Regions from separate parts of the Homo sapiens genome. Here region 1 is linked to region 2. A link means that fine-mapping ties the variant in region 2 to the expression of a gene that starts in the linked region. Tissue or cell type: whole blood. Region 2 holds a variant in brackets; the other region holds the start of a gene. All regions are shown on one strand. Distances are between the middles of the regions.

Region 1 (8,083 bases), 130 kb before region 2:
GTTCATCTCACATCTTAGAACTGTACAAGCATGGTATAAGTTGTTTTATAATAAGACACAAAAAACCTCAACATGTCAATGATTTGTAGGAAAGTGGGAGTGTGGGTACCCACATAATGTCTGCAGCTATTAGAAACTTGGAAAGAAAGGGTCATTTTTCCTGCAGACACAAGTTGCCTGGTTTGAGGCAAGGGATGAGGAAGAACTGCTTTTTTGTTTGTGCCCTGTGACTGTCCAACATCAGCATTCATTTCATGACCATTGCCTGAGCACCTACTGCATGCCAGGATCCAAGAATACAGGGGCATAGTGGGAAGCATCATGGGACTCCAAAACTGACTCCTCCAAGCACAGAGAGCTGAGAGCACACGCACAGCTGCCTGTAGGCAGAGTGGGGTGGTGGGAAGGGAAGGGAGGATGGTTGCAGACAATATTGTTCTCCAAAATGGTGCACCTGCCTCCATTCACTGACTTCTGTGTTTTTACAACTGTTGTTTACTCTGCCTGGAACCTCATTTCCTCTCTTCCTACCTTACAATGTTATTTTTTCAGCTCAGCGGTTCCCTCATCCCCAATGCTTATCGTGCACAATGCTGTGTTTTCATTATTCATATCTGTGTGTTCCCAGTGCCTTCCACAGTGCCCGGCACAAAGCAGACACTCTGGAAGACATATGTCAGATGAATGCAACTAAAGGAGTGAAGGTTACAGGCTACCCAAGATGAAAGGATCCATTAGGGGAAGGCAAGATGAGGAAGAGCACATTTGATTAGTTAGGGCAGAGGGCCCCAGAGGAATGTGTCAGAAATACAGTGTGGAAACAGAAAGGGAGAAAGACAAGCATTGAGTGGAGATTCAGGAATGAGAGCAGGTTGGGAACAAGGAGAAAAAGGAATCATGTGGGCAGCTGGTTGGTGACCTTTGGCAAGCATGGGCCTTTTTGTCTGCCCCGTGTGCTTGGCCACACACACTTGACCTGGGCTTTGCATACACAGCACACTGGAGGAGTGTGGCACAGCCGGGAAGGCTTCCTGGAAACCCTGGCATCAGGAGAGGTCCAGAGGAGAAGCACAGGGATACCGTGGTGGTTTGCTGGCCCAGGCAAAGGCTCCCCATTCTGCCTTCCAACAGGAAATGGCCCCTGCTTCCTTTAGCAGAAAGCTTGCTCCATGAGGGATGATAAACCACCCACTCCCAGGGCTACCCTGGGTGACAGGAGGTCCACTGGGGCCTTGGGACTGTCCTCCCTCCCTCTTCTCTCTCAGTAACTGTAATTTGCCTACCTGAGGGAAGACTCCCTGAGGAGGTGGCTCCTTCTGGGCTCTGGAAGGCCATAGGGGTTGCTGCAAGTCCAAGCAGAACTACAGCTACTACCTCTGTGGTCCCTTCAGTTGCCTCCCTGCAATCTCCTCCTCCAGTTCTCCAAGCCCCTAAATCTAGCCCCGTATTTAATCAAATCCCTGTCTAGACTCCAGACCCACCCACCTCCCAGGGAGATCTCAGATGTGTATCCAAGTTAGGCTAAAGTTGCCTGAAACAAAGGGTTCTGTCAGGAAGCAGGAGATTGCATTCTGCAGGTGGACTAATTCCCAGCATCTTCAGCAATTCTCTAATTGGTGGCATTCAAAGTGTGGACTTTAGGGAACCTAGGGTGAGGAATTCCAGGCTAAGAAAGCCTTGCAGGCTGGCACCTCCATGTTTCCTGGCTAAAGAACTTGTCAATCTGACCTCCGAGAAGCTCTTTATAGTCCCATAGGCCTTGCACGGGACTGGATCCCAGCTGGCCCTCCCTCCACTGGAGCAAGGGTGAAACTGGTGTTGAGTTCAAATCTACTAATTCCACACTCTCTCCATTCTACTGCTGCAGCCAGGGAAGGAGCCTTGGTGGTGTGTGGAGGGCGGTTCCACGGCCATTTTCTTCCCCTATGCCAGGTCTCCCCAGTCCAAGTGTCTAAATTCACCAGGATTCTCTTCACCAGTGCCTTGCTCTTCAGAGGAGAGGCATCCTATATCACCACATTGAAGCCAATGTGAATATTGAATTGGACAAGCCACCAGCTTATCAGAAGGGTGGTACAAATCCAAGTTAGTCCTTAAAACCATGGTCAGATATACACTGATTCTTCTGGAACACTGTAACCTAAGCCCACCCCAAAGTCACCAAGAATATGCTGTCTGGCTTATTTGGGGGTCATACTTTTTCAATCCAGAGCCATTTCTTTCCTTTGAGTGAAGAATGTTGGGAGCCCCTAGCAAGATAGCCCTGGAATTTTTTGGCAAGTCAAGGAAAAGATAAAGTCAAACTCTGCTAGTGGAGAAGATGTGGGTGTCATCTTCTCCACTAGTCATACTTAGCCTTGATGTATCACCTTTCTTCTGAGAATGTAGAAACATTTAATAAGTGGTAATTAAGCTTCCCAGCACTCCTGGTGCCTGCATATGACCCAGGGTCTTTCTTTAATGTCAGGATCACTTGTGGGTCTGTCTACACAGGTCATTGAGGCTTTGGACCTCCATCTAGGGTGGGACACTGAGTGAGGGCTCTGAAGTGAGCAGCAGGTTGTCAGTAGGGTCTTTTGCACTTGCTGGAGAGAGGACCAGATGGCCATCTGGTTTCTGGCTTTTTTTTCCCCATGAGAGCACCAGTAGCATAAAGGGTTGGGCTTCCAGAATCAGTCCAGGTAATCCACCTCTTGAAGACTGGGGATGTGAAGCCTTGGGAAAGTCCAGTTCTTCCTGTATTTCCTCACAGACAGGTTCATATGTTCCTCTTGGCAATTTACCTTGTCAGAGCAAAAGAACACACTGACAAGTAATTTGTGCATCAGTGTCCTGTTGCCTTTGCTAGATAGCTTCCAGGGCCTGGTCAACTCTGGAAGAACTGCTAAAATTGAACTTGTGGGCCTGCAGAGCAGTGGTTCAGCTCCCAGACTCCCTGGGATCTCATTAAAGTAGCGTCTGCCCTCAAGATTCTGGACTCTGAGGAGCCTGCCTGGTCTCTATCTATGAAGCTCTTGAAAGGGCAGTGATGCCTGTTATTCAAGTGTCTGAACTGGCAGACCATCTTCTCATGCCTGCTTGGGGCACGGTCACTGGTAATGAAGATGGTGCTGTCCAATCTGACCACTGGCAAGCACCTCTTTCTAACAGTATGGGCTGCAGGTTCAGCTAGACCCTGAGTTTCATCTGTGCTCCTTCACCCTTACTTGCTGGCTCGCTCAGGGCCTGTTATACAAGCTTCTCTGCGCCTTAATTCCTCGTCTGTATTTGAGTGTTCATTGAGAACCTCCTCTGGGCTACACATTGGACTTTACCCAGAGGATGGGAAAGGAAGATGGGTGAAAAAGTCTGGGACAGGGTCCTGGTGCTTCAGCAGATGAAAACTTGATTTGGATTACTCAACCTTAAAATCAGCTCATATAATAATATCCATTTCCCAGTGGGTGTTGGGAAGCTTAATTACCACTTATGATATGTTTTTACGTTCTCAGAAGAAAGGTGATACATCAAGACTAAGTATGACTATCGCAATTGTGATTCTCTCAAGCTGCCCTTGGGGCTAAACAGTATAAAATTGTCATTTGTGAAACTCTGCTATTGCAACAAAGGATGACTATTATCCATAATGATAGTAGACTAATGTTTAAGGCATTGTTGTGCTCATGAAAACTTAAATCTGCCCAAAGTGAAGATGGTAAACTAGGTCACCTGCTATGAGCTTGTCCTGCTCTTGGATTCCAAAAGCAAACAAAATCCTTGAGGAGGTTGACACCTGAAAGAGTACCAGATAGCAACAGCATTCTTTGTACACCTAGCATGTACCAGGCAGTGTGTTATGCACACGATCTCACTGAATCTTCCTAACACGCTTAGAAAAGAGGTTTTTATCATTTCCATTCTGCGGAGGAGAAAAACTGAGACTCAAAGATGTTGACTTGCCCAAGGAAGATGAACCTGGTACTTGTAAGTAGGGCAGCCTGGAGTGGAGGCAGAGGTCAGGTGTGAAGTGACCACAAAGTTTAGACAGGATCCAAGGAGGCTCTGAACTGGGTTAGAAAAATGAGGATGATTTCCACGTCTCCTGCTTGAATACCCCCCTGCGTACGAATAGGCCTGCTGCTAAGGGAAAAAGGGAACCCAGGAGGGGAAGGCGGTTGGCACGGGAAGTGACTTTGGTGCTAGGTAACTTGAGTAGGGAATAGCCAGCATATCTGGACACGCTGGCTTGGGAATTGGAAGGGAAGTTGGGACCCAAACTTTGGAGTCGTTGACAGATGTGACAGGTGAAGCCTGGGATGACATCGCCAAAAATGCAACGTCTCACTCATTGTCACTACTCCCAGGGCTCAGTCGTCACTGGGGAAAATCTCCAGAAGGTAGCGCGGGCCAAGGTGACAGGTGTCTGCCAAGATCTGCCCGCCAGACTCCCGGGCGGCGCGCTCCCTCCCTGCAGGCCTTCAGCCCGTCAGCATCCCCTTCCTCGGGGCCCTGCTCACTCCCAGCCTCCATCCCCCTGCCATCTCCTCCGCCGGTCGCGTGCGGACACAAGGATGGGGACCTCCCAGCGAGGAGCGCTCTGGGCGGGGCTCCGGACGCATGCGCGGCCCTCGTACGGAAGCCCGGAAGGAGGGGCAGGGGGCGGTGGCTCAGGTTTCTCCGGGCGGCGGCGGCGGCGGCGGCGGCGGCGGCGGCGGCGGCGGCGGCGACGGCGACGGCGACGGCAGCGGGGACGGCAGCAGTAGCGGGAGCAGCAGCGTGGACGCGGCTGGCGCTGGCGCCATGAACCCGCTGTAAGGCGCAGGCTGTGCAGCACGGGGTGCGGGGGAGGAGGAGGAGGACGCCGCGGTGAAGTTCTCCGCCATGAACCTGAGGGGCCTCTTCCAGGACTTCAACCCGAGGTGAGGCGGCGTCGTTGGCGCCCCCGGGAGTCCGCGCTGCGGGCTCGGGCGCGGGCTGGTGTTCGGCTCCGGGGAGGCACGGCGGGCGAGATGCTGCAGCCCGAGGACCCGGGCGCCTGCCCGAGCCTCCCTGCGGGTGCAAGCGGTCCCCAGGCAAAACAGTCGGCCTCGGCGCCCGCCCGCTTCCTCCTCCCGTGCCCGGTGCTTTCAGCCCCTGCCCGGCCACGGCCGGAAGGGCCCGGCCGCGAGCCCCGTCCTGCCCCAAGGGAACCCCATTCTTTTCTGCTTGCTGTCCCTCATTGGTGTCCCAACTTCTTCGTCTCGGTTCCATCCTCTTCTGCGCCGCTGCGGGCCCTCCATTCTCCGCGTCAGGGCCGTCTCACTCGACCCAACACCCCTACCCCCACCCCAGCTGTTTCCTCCAGTTCCTCGCAGTCCTTGGGGTTTTCCTTGGGTTTATGCCCATCCCTCTCTTGTTTGCTTCTTTGTTGAACGGATACCTGAAACACTGTTGAATCCTTGGAGTCAGTGTCGGGGTATGGCAATACCTTATATAATGCATTTCTGGGTGAGCCTGATCATTTTCCATACTCATTTTCTCATCAGTCTTCACTACAAGTTTATTTGCAGGAAGTAGATATTGCTGTCCTTCTTTTCCAGATGGGGAACACCCAGTGGACAGTGTGGAGAAAACACTGGCTAAGCACTCAAGCGCCTGTCCTTGCACTTGCCCGACTGTTTTGTAACTGTTCTTTACCCCAGGCTGTGAGCTCCCTGAAGCTGAGACCATCTCCTGCTCATCTCAGTGTCCCCAGCGCCTCCCACCCACCGTATCTGGCACATAGTAGGCACATATAAAATGTTTGTGGAACTAAACTGAGCCCAAAGACTTGGATTGGAGACGAGGCCATATGTAACTGGGTGATTCTCTGCCCTTCTTTGGCCCTTCTGTAAAATGAGGAGTTGGCCTAACTGATCTCTTAAATGCACTACTCTCCGAAAGGAGTATCCGTTTCCCTTATTTGCCAGTTGGGAAGACGTGCTCAGTAAATATTTGTGTGCTGTAACCTATGTTAGGTGCTTTAGATGCTGGCGGTCTCAGCATGGGGTGAAGAAGGGCTTGTACACTTAAGATGCCTTACAGTACTGTGCAGTGCTGTACTGCGGGGGCCAACTCTGGGGACCTATGCCTTGGCTGCTTGTTGAGGATGAAAGGAAGTTTTAGGGGAGTATTTGTATGTTGAGGGTGCAGTCTCCCTAGGGATGGTGACATTTTAACTTGTGAGTCATTGTGACTTTGTATGTGCTCTTATTCCACTTTGAGTTCATGTTCTGGTTAGGAGTGCCAGTGTCTCTAACACGGTGCAGACATTATCATTGTTGGCTTCGAAGGCATAGAGGAGGTAACAGAACTAACTGCAGTCCCTTCCTCTGCTGCATCAGGGGGTTAAGATTGGTCTGCAGGGTAGTAGGGTTGGTGCTGTGGCTGGACAAGCCCTGTATGTCTTCTATTTGGAGATGGTGATAAGAAAGTTAAGTAAAAACTGAATTGTTTTGTGCCCTTGGGCAACTCACTTATCTATTGTTTTATCTGTAGAATGAGTATAATCTCTCAGTGGGGTAGGGAGGCCAATTAAGGATTGATTACAAAGTGCCTTACAAATAGAAAGCTACAGTGACTTGTTTGCAAGGTGACAGAGAATTCAGAAGCCTCAAGAAACTGCCTTAAGTGATCAAACAGGCTAACGGAGTTGCCAAAGCAAAATAGTGCTGCACTGATACTACCTTTAACCGTTTTTTCCTTTAGCCCTTTTCCCCCCAAAAAAATTAGTATATGAAATTACAGTGAAATACCTGGTATCTAAGCAGATTTATAGTAATTCTCAACATATTCATCAATCTCTTAATTCTACCTGCATTAAAATGTATTTCTACCTGAAAAGTTTAAAGGTCTTTTATACTGTGCCATTTTCCTGATTCATTGTTGCCAGAGGTAGTGAGTTCCTTAATTTTACAGATATTTCAAGAGGACATTGGCCAGGTATTATTGGTAAATCAGATTTGTTTTTTTAGCTGGTAGTGTTTCACCTCTCCTGAGCACTCCTAGTTTTTGACAGTGTGCTTTAGTCTCCTTCCATGCTGAGGAAGGCCTTCTCTATAGGAGAAAGAAAACTGAGGGGTGTACACAGGAAGTTACCTTATGCTGGGGACTCAAACCTTGATGCTACTGCTTTGCTCCCTGCCTCTATTTTTGAACCAATTCAACATCTCCCTCCTACCCCAGGACCTTGTCACACACTGTTCTCTTTACCAGGAATGTTTCCCTCTCTTTTCCTCTCCTCCAGACCTAGTGAACTCCTATTTATCCTCACTTGGCACTTGCTAAGGGAAGCATTCCTGACTTCCCTGACCAGATTTACTGCTCCCTGTTTCTACAGTTCCTGTAGTATTTACTACTCCTCCATCATAGTGCATATTTGTACCCTTGTGTCTGTCTGGATGCTTATTTGATTAATACCTGCCTCCCCCACTAAACTTTAAGCTCCATGGGGTCAAGGCCGTGACTGTGTCAGTATCGTAGCCTGCATACTTGGAATAGTACCTGGCTCAATAAATATTTGTGGAGTAAATAACTGAATAACTCTCCAGAGCCTATAAGATAAATCTAGAGCTGCTGCTTTCAATCACTGCTTTCCTGGTGGTCTGTGGCCTGGTTCTCTTTCTTCTCACACTCTTCCCACCTTCAGAGTGCAGCCATTGCTTTGGAGAGATGGGAGAGAACATGGCACTAAGGCAGAATATGGCTATATTTACTTTGAAGAGCATGTCTTTGTCATAGAAATAGTCACTGTCATGGTTTGGTGGGTCCCAAGGCATGGGTCATGGCTCCAGATCCCCTTTCCAGCCTTTTGGATCTTGGTAAGTCTGAACCCACTGCTGCGTTGGCAAGGCTCTGGAAACTATAGTGACAGAGAATGATTCACAAGTGTCAACACTCAGATGTACAGGGCTGCCAGCTGACCCACTCTACCTATTTCCATCTGGCACTGAACTGGTTGATCATGAACTTCTTTTCATAATTGCTTTTTAGTTATGCAGGTTAAGACATGCCGAAACAGATGTACCGGACCCACAAACAAGTCCTTCCTTGAATGCCTGAGGCTTCCTAACAGTGAAAGAGCCCT
Region 2 (8,101 bases):
TTCTTCCTCATCTCTAACCTCTAGCAATCTCTTCCCCCCCACCTCAGCCTCCCAGCTTCAAGGCCACATCCTTGACCTTTAAATCACCAGGATCTGTTTTACCTCAGAAATCTTAAATTTCAGGGTCTCATTCTGGGACTAAAACCAGTACTCTCACACCCTTGCTGCCTCTCTATATCCTCACCCATCTCCTAGATCTTTGTTTGTCCCCAGTCCACCAGTCTTCTTAACCACTGTCAGCCACCTGAACTGCTCTCTTACTGGCTCTCTCCACTTGCTCCCACTCTTGTCCTTCTGCTGCTATGAGCCCCAGCAAAACCTCGAGCTTACACCAGAGCAAACAAACAACAAAAACAAACACACACAATTGTGCCAAGTGGCATATATAATTTTCTATCCCAGCTGAGACAATCAATCTTGTTAAATTTTGAATTGTTTATAGGTAGTGTTAGTTTTCTAGGGCTGCTGTAACAAAGTACTACAAATTACATGGCTTAGAACAACAGAAATGCATTGTCTTACAGTTTTGGAGGCCAGAAGTCTTAAATCAAGGTGCCAGCAGGACCATGCACCCCCTGAAACCTATAGAAGAAGAATGCTTCCTTGCCTCTTCCTAGCTTCTTGTGGTTTGCTGGCAATCATTGGCATCCACTGGCTTGTAGATGCATCACTTCAATCCATTGTCTTCACATGGATGTCTTCTCTCTATGTGTTTGTGTCTGTGTCCAAATTTTTTCTTTTGATAAGGACCCCAGTCATATTGGATTAGGGCCCAACCCAATTACCTCCTTTTAACTTGATTACCCTGTTAAAGACCCTGTTTCCAAATAAGATCACATTCTGAGGTACTGGGTGTTAGGACTCCAACATACAATTTTTGGGGGGAGGACACTAACACCTAAGTCAAAAAGGACCAAAAGACATACCATACAAAGCAAAGGCCCTCTGCCCTGCACCTTCCCTCTTCTGTTCTCATTTTAAATGTTTCTACTTTCATTTCTTCTAGTAGATTGTCCCTGTCTTTCTAAATACTATGCTATTTCTATATCAACTTTCTAATGTTTTCAACTTTAGACATTGCTGACTTCTTCCTATGATAGATGAGATCACTTATCCATTCCTCTTTTTATGTACATATTTTTAACCTTGGATTTTGGAAATTGATCAAACCTATACAAGATTACAGAAAATAGTATAATAAACCCCAGGTGTTCATCAATGAACTTCATTGGTTATCAACTCATGACAAATTTTGTTTCATCTCTCCCTGCCATTTTCCCTTCTCCTTTTACTATATAGATTTATTGCCATTTTTAAGTTTTCTATTGTTTACTTTTGTATCTTTAAGTAATATCCCTAAATCTGTATTTCTCTTTCTATGAACTGGGGACAGCGACTATTGATTTATTATTATTATTATTATTATTTTTTTGCGATAGGCTGGGGCAAAGGAGACAATCCTAAATTGCTAACCCTAAATTAATGTGCCTACATTTCCTGCCATCTCCCTTCCTCCTCCCAGCTTTTTGTCAACTGTTGCTGCAGGCCAGGTTCCCAAGGAAGCTGACTAAGATGTAGAGTAATGTGCAGGAAGTTTCTTAGGGAGTACTCTTAGGATCAACACCTGTAGAAGGGGAGGGGAGGGAAGAAATCAAAATTCAACAGACAGAGAAAGTGGGCAGTCTCAAAAAAGGCTTCAGTTAACCCCACAGGGAGCTCTGAAGCTGAAATGGCCTTTCAGAGATGTCCCAAGTTGGGGTAAGGGGCTGCACCTTTGTACCTTCAAGTTGAATCACTGATGTGGGCTTCCTGAGAACAGGGGTGACCTTGGCTGAGGTACCTATCTTTTTCTAAGACAATTTCTGATGAGGGCTAACGACAGCTAACAGCTCTCAAGCCAGCTAGGGAAATAAAATTTTTGGTGTTGAAGGGAGATCTGAGCAGTGCACCACAGCACCATCACAGCTGTATTTGTACCTTCCCATTGTCCATTGTTGTTTAGTCATAATTAAGTCATCTGGGCTTTGTTATAGATTGATTCTCAAAGTTGAAAATCAAACTGTGTTTGCAGTATTAGGACGGTATAATAGTATTCAGTACAGTACAGTGTAGGGCTAGGATTCCATCTCCCCACAATTGCTGCTCTCTCTGTTTGGCGCACCCTTCTTGCAGACCTCAATGCGGCTTGCTCCCTCACTTGCTTCAAAATTTTGTTCAAATGCCACTTCACTAGTGAGGCCCTGCCTGGCCACCCCATAGAAAATAACAAGCATGCCCCGCACCCACGCTTTATTTTTCTCCAGACCGGGTATGCCCACCGACACTCTCTATATTTTTTTATTGTTTTAAGCTCCACCAAAGCAGGGACATAGAGCCCCAGTGCCACCAACAGCGCCTGGTATACATATTTGCGATACTTAATAAGAATTAGTTGAAGAAATGAATAGGAAAGGGAGTCCCTTTAGATGGAGGAAGGGACTTTCTCAAAAGGCCTCATGGAAGGAGAATGGCATTGAGGCTGGCTTACAAGAAGTGTGTCTTTTATAAAAAGAAGGAAGGGCAGGGCTTCCAGGTGAAAGGCATAGCACAAGCAAAGGCAAAAAGACGGGTAACTGCTAGTTGTTAAGGGCAGTGGCTGAATCGCTATACCCCTAGCAGTTCTACACCTAGGGGCCTGCGGGCCGCTGGGTCTGCGAAGCTTGCAAGGCAACTGGCCCGCCCCCGCTCTGCGCCTGTCTCTCGGCCACGCCTATTGCTGCAGGATGACGCGCACCTCTAGAACCCGCCCCGGAGGGGAGGGACGCAGGGAAGAGTCGCACGGACGCACTCGCGCTGCGGCCAGCGCCCGGGCCTGCGGGCCCGGGCGGCGGCTGTGTTGCGCAGTCTTCATGGGTTCCCGACGAGGAGGTCTCTGTGGCTGCGGCGGCGGCTGCTAACTGCGCCACCTGCTGCAGCCTGTCCCCGCCGCTCTGAAGCGGCCGCGTCGAAGCCGAAATGCCGCCACCCCGGACCGGCCGAGGCCTTCTCTGGCTGGGTCTGGTTCTGAGCTCCGTCTGCGTCGCCCTCGGATCCGAAACGCAGGCCAACTCGACCACAGGTGCCGCCCACGCCCTCCCTGCCATCTCTTCTCCCTTCCTCCCTCCCTTCCTTCCTCCTTCCTTCTTTCCTTCCTTCTTTGTTTATATCCATTCTTTTTACCCTTCCTCTCTCCTACCATTCCTTCTTTCATCCATCATTCGTTCCCTCCCTCCATTTTTCACTCCTTCCTACCGTCCCTTCATCCCTCCCTTCCCTCTTTCCATCTATTCATCCATCCATCTCCTATCCCTCCGTGCTTCCCTTCCTCTTTCCCCCCATCTTTCCCATCTCTATCCATCCATCTTTCCCCCTCCTTTCCTCCCTCCATTGGTCCATCCGTCCCTTTTACCTTCTATCCATTCATATTTCTCTCTCTTCTCCCCTCCTTCTCTCCATCCTTTCTTCCCTTCAGCTATTCATCTTTTCCTCCTTATCTTCCTCCATCCAACCATCTGTCCTTTCCTGCATACATCATTCTCTTTTTTTCCTAAATTCATCTTTCCTTTCCACCATCTTTCACTCACTATCTCGCTTCCTCACCCAGGTTGGAGGCCATGACCAAAGCCTAACCCTGCCACCCAGGACTCAGGCTTCCTCCTCGAGCCCCACTCCCACCCTTGCTGAGGCACAGCGCCCTCCCTGGCTAGGCTGTTAAGGTGCAGGGTCCAGCCTTGGGCCTCTTAGTAACCTAGCACCTACCATGAGGGAGGGTTCAGTGTCAGTGCAGGTTACCTCACCAAAGCCCCTCCCTCCTGTGTAGATGCTCTGAACGTTCTTCTCATCATCGTGGATGACCTGCGCCCCTCCCTGGGCTGTTATGGGGATAAGCTGGTGAGGTCCCCAAATATTGACCAACTGGCATCCCACAGCCTCCTCTTCCAGAATGCCTTTGCGCAGGTATGTCTGGGAACCTCTAGCTGTGGGTGTGTGCTGCTTCGTGCACTGAGGGTTGGGGGCGGGGAGCTTCAGCTATTGTCAGATGGCACAGATTGTGCGGGACATCTTGTTAGAGGGAAGCATAGTCTGGAAAATGGTAGTGGAGAAAATCTGGTTTTCCACTCATGGGAAAGCTTGACCTTCAAGGGTGGCCTTCTCCTTGGGTGCAAGGTGCGCCCTGGCCCTGATGTGTTCATGGCAGCCCTGGCCAGCTTTCTCCCAGAACGGGCGCTTGCCTGGTGCTCAGAAGGAAGGGGTGCTGCAGAAGGGCACCCACAGGTCTGCAG[G/A]CTGGGCCTCAGGTGAGAGCTAGCCAGGGTGGCCCTGCTCCCTGAACCCCCTCATGGCTCTGCCCCCAGCAACACTGGCCGCTCTGTGTGCCTGGGGAGGCCATTGCGTAGGAGGAGATAAGCATCTGCTGGTTTCAGGGGCTGATTGCTTCCCTTTTCTCTCCCGGAAGCAGTCTGTTGCCTAGGTGACACCCAAATCCCAGTGTCTGGTTTGAGCTCTGCATGACTCAGCTACCAAGCTGTTTGCTAGGAGCCTCGGGAGGGCGGTTGCTTGGTTACCTAAGAGATGGCAGACATGTTTTGCTGTGGCGATGCTTACCTCTGCTTCTGCTCCCTAACAGCAAGCAGTGTGCGCCCCGAGCCGCGTTTCTTTCCTCACTGGCAGGAGACCTGACACCACCCGCCTGTACGACTTCAACTCCTACTGGAGGGTGCACGCTGGAAACTTCTCCACCATCCCCCAGTACTTCAAGGAGAATGGCTATGTGACCATGTCGGTGGGAAAAGTCTTTCACCCTGGTACTGCTCCATGTCCAGAGTCTGGGTTCTCTTGGTTTGTGGTGTCTGAATCCAGCATTCCCATCCTGGGGATGGGGCTGTCTTTGCAGAGCCCTCTTCTGGCTGGGCGAGTCCCTCGCTAGTCAGTGCTTCCTTTCTAAAAAACTGACTTGTCAACCCAGCCACGTTTTCACCCAAAGTGAAAAAGGGTAGAAAGAGCTTTGCTTCCTTTCAGAAACCACTGAGGGTGTGCTGTTGGGTCTTTCAGCTCCTCGGGTGGTAGGGAGGACACAGGCTGGGGAGGTGGCAGTGTTGGGTGGAGTCCAGCTCAGGGCCCCACCCTCTCCCCTGCAGGGTACCTGTCAGTAAACCTAGGGGTGGGGTGAGGACACCTGAGGGCCTCCCGTGTGGCCAGCATTGCTGTTGCTGACTTATTGCCCAATGAGGGGGCTGTGCTTAGGTAGGGGCTGCTATCCACTCTGGAAATTAAGTCAGAAAGATGAGTGTAATCTGGTACCCAGGATCTATAGGGTCCCAGAGACGGACATTCCTTACCTCAAATGCTGCCTGATAAACTGGCTCTCTTTAATGCCAATATGGGGATAGTGAAAAGCAAACAAACTTTAAAACTTTTTATTTATAGAAGTAATGCATGAGTATTTGAGAAAAAAAATGGAGAAAAAAGTATTGGAAGACAAGAGCACCATAGGGACAATAATGCTTATCATTTGGGAATGACGAATGTTTTCAGTCTCTTTCCCTTTGCTCAGTGGTTACACCGGCAGGCTTGGCAGCCTTCTGCAGGAGCTCAGCTGGCCAGCCCAGGTTGAGAGTGACATTCAGCTCTACTAAGTCAGGCCAGTTTCAGAGGTGAACCTGTCAGGAATCATATTGCACAGCCAAAAGTCCAGTGTCAGGAGAACTTTCTGCAGTTTGGTGTTCTCATTACCATACCCCTTGCCCAAATGCAGCTGGAGGGAAGTGATGATTTTGGAGAGAGGAGGAAACACAGCAGAGGGAGGAGATTGTGCTTTGGGAGGGGAAACCAGGCAAGGACTGAGTGATGTTGCTTGACCTCCTCCCTCCTGATGATTGGATTTTGGCACCAGGCTCTAAGCACCATGTCCTTCTCAGAGAATAAACCTTTCCCTGCAGCCCTTGTGGGAACACATTTTTCAGCTGAATCTTTGTTCTCAAGACCTTTTTCTGTTAGCATTGGGCCTGCTTCAAGATGACAGTAGCCACCACTGTGTGCCAGGTATGTACCGTTTACCATGCTGGCCACTCCTTTAATCCTCCCAACAGCAAGCAAGGTGGGTTTTTATCATCATCATCATTTCCCAAGGAAGACATGAAGGCTCATGGGAGTCAAGTAGCTTGCCAGAGGTTGCAAGGATGCTAAGAGGCAGCATCAGGATTTGGACCTGTGGTTGTTGGCTTCCTGTGTGCTCTTTCCACAGTGCTTGCTGTCTTCATAGGCCCTCCACCCGCTGCCCTCTTTCTCTCCATTCCTGTCTCTTCTGGTACTCCCTATGGGAGTCCCACTGTGTGACTGCTGCTGATGCTTTCTCACGAGGTTCTGCCTGTGATCCCCTCCACTCCCAGCTAACCACTATAGGCAGCACTTCCCTTCAGATCCCTCACAGGCCTCACTGGCTCCTAGAAGTCCTCCCTGCCAGTCCTCACCTGACTCACAATAACCTCTGTGCTTGGAGGATCCCCCACTTGGCACTTCGATGCTTTTGAAAGCTGGAAGTCCTTCCTTGGTTTCCAGTGCTGTTATACTGTCTTCACAAATAAACTATAAACTACTAAGCTTAAGGGTGGGTTTCTGCTTCATGAATGAGCACTTGAACTTGGAATTCTAAAACAAGGTTTTGAGTCCTGGCTCCCTTATCTAATATCTGGTTAGCATAGGTAAGTCACATACCTTCCCTGAGCCTCCCTCTCCTGCCCCCATCGGCTCCCTGATGGTGCTGATGCCTCTGCTGCCTCCTTCATAGGGTGAGAGATAGGTTTCAGCATGGGCTCTAAGGAGCTGACTGATCTTGTCCTTGTGGGTCCCTTCCACAGAGCCTAGCACAAATCATCAGGGCTTAGGGACCAGGAAGTCAGATGCTTAGTTCTCAAATAGAAACTAGAGAGTTTGGCTTTAGAGGGGACCTTTTGTAGATGAGGAAACTGAGCCCCAAAGAAGGGAGGTTCCACTTGCCCATTTGTTTACAGAGTTTTAATTATGGGGAGTGGGGTGTTGAAAGACTCATCATGTTTTAACAACCTTTTTTTTTTTCCAAGGGATATCTTCTAACCATACCGATGATTCTCCGTATAGCTGGTCTTTTCCACCTTATCATCCTTCCTCTGAGAAGTATGAAAACACTAAGGTAAGGCTGTGAAAGGGACATTTCTGAAGAGGAACCACTTTTTCCTTTGTCACATAAACTACTGGGTATACTGCATGTTCTGTGAAGCTGGTTATATACCACGAAGTTGTGGGTTTCATTTGTGATAATGTTTTGACAGAAGTAAGTGTTGGGATCTTCAGCATTAGGCCCGACAGGAGCAGTGGCTTCATTCTAGAAGCTGGTGGGTGCTACTTGTTCTAAAACCTTGGGCTCTAACGTGTCAGACTCATTGAATAGCTCCCCAGTGCTCACGCTGGATGAGACTGAGAGTTGTAGGAGATGCTGAGACATGGGAGGGAGAAAAGAGGCTGAGCTCCAGGAGCCTCAGCCCAGAATGGGAGAAAGGCATGCCGTGTATCTGTCTCTGACCTAATGTGTATGTTCAGCAGCTGAGACCTCTGATAGGGGTTTTGAATTTTTAGAGCATTATGAAAAAAAGTAACCTACAAAGAAAATCTTGGTTTAGAGGAATCCCAAATGTATAAATGAAACTAAAACCCACATTTAAGAAACTCAGAAAACCAGCTAGGGAACTGAGACATGAAATGTATCTCTGAGGTTTTAGTAAACATCGTGTTGGGAAGGGTGAGGATTTGGAAGTGAGGTGGAAGGTATTGTTCTAAGTTCTTGACAGCTTTCCATTTCAGAATACAGTGAAAACTGTGAGCTCTGGCCTTTGGCTTGTGGCTTGAATAGGGAAGATCCCATCTTAATTCCCTGAAGCCATCTTGCTTCTTTTTAGTGGCCTCACTTACGAATGCCAGGTCCCTGCCCTAACTGCCCCCTACCCATTTCTTCTCAAAGTGGTGGGTCTGACAATACTAAATCTCCCTCGAGTGCTGCAAATCGTGTATATATAGATGATGAACAAGTGGTCTGAGGCGGGTGCTGGGCTGT

The links. PIP is the estimated chance that this variant, and not a neighbour inherited with it, causes the effect.
Region 1: it holds the start of TMEM185A, and the variant in region 2 is fine-mapped to the expression of TMEM185A in whole blood (TOPMed, PIP above 0.99).

Annotation. Positions count from the first base shown.
Region 1 is chrX:149,628,358-149,636,440 of GRCh38, reverse strand. It overlaps TMEM185A (transmembrane protein 185A), which reads left to right and starts at 4,649. Exons shown (of 7, transcript NM_032508.4): 1 at 4,649-4,898. The coding sequence starts at 4,861. RefSeq lists silencers at 4,687-5,096, 5,107-5,156.
Region 2 is chrX:149,500,031-149,508,131 of GRCh38, reverse strand. IDS (iduronate 2-sulfatase) reads left to right here and starts at 2,826. Exons shown (of 9, transcript NM_000202.8): 1 at 2,826-3,097; 2 at 3,839-3,975; 3 at 4,643-4,820; 4 at 7,095-7,183. The coding sequence starts at 2,995. RefSeq lists enhancers at 2,922-3,081, 3,074-3,575, 3,699-4,247 and a silencer at 3,638-3,737. The variant G/A (reference allele first, on the strand shown) is at 4,302.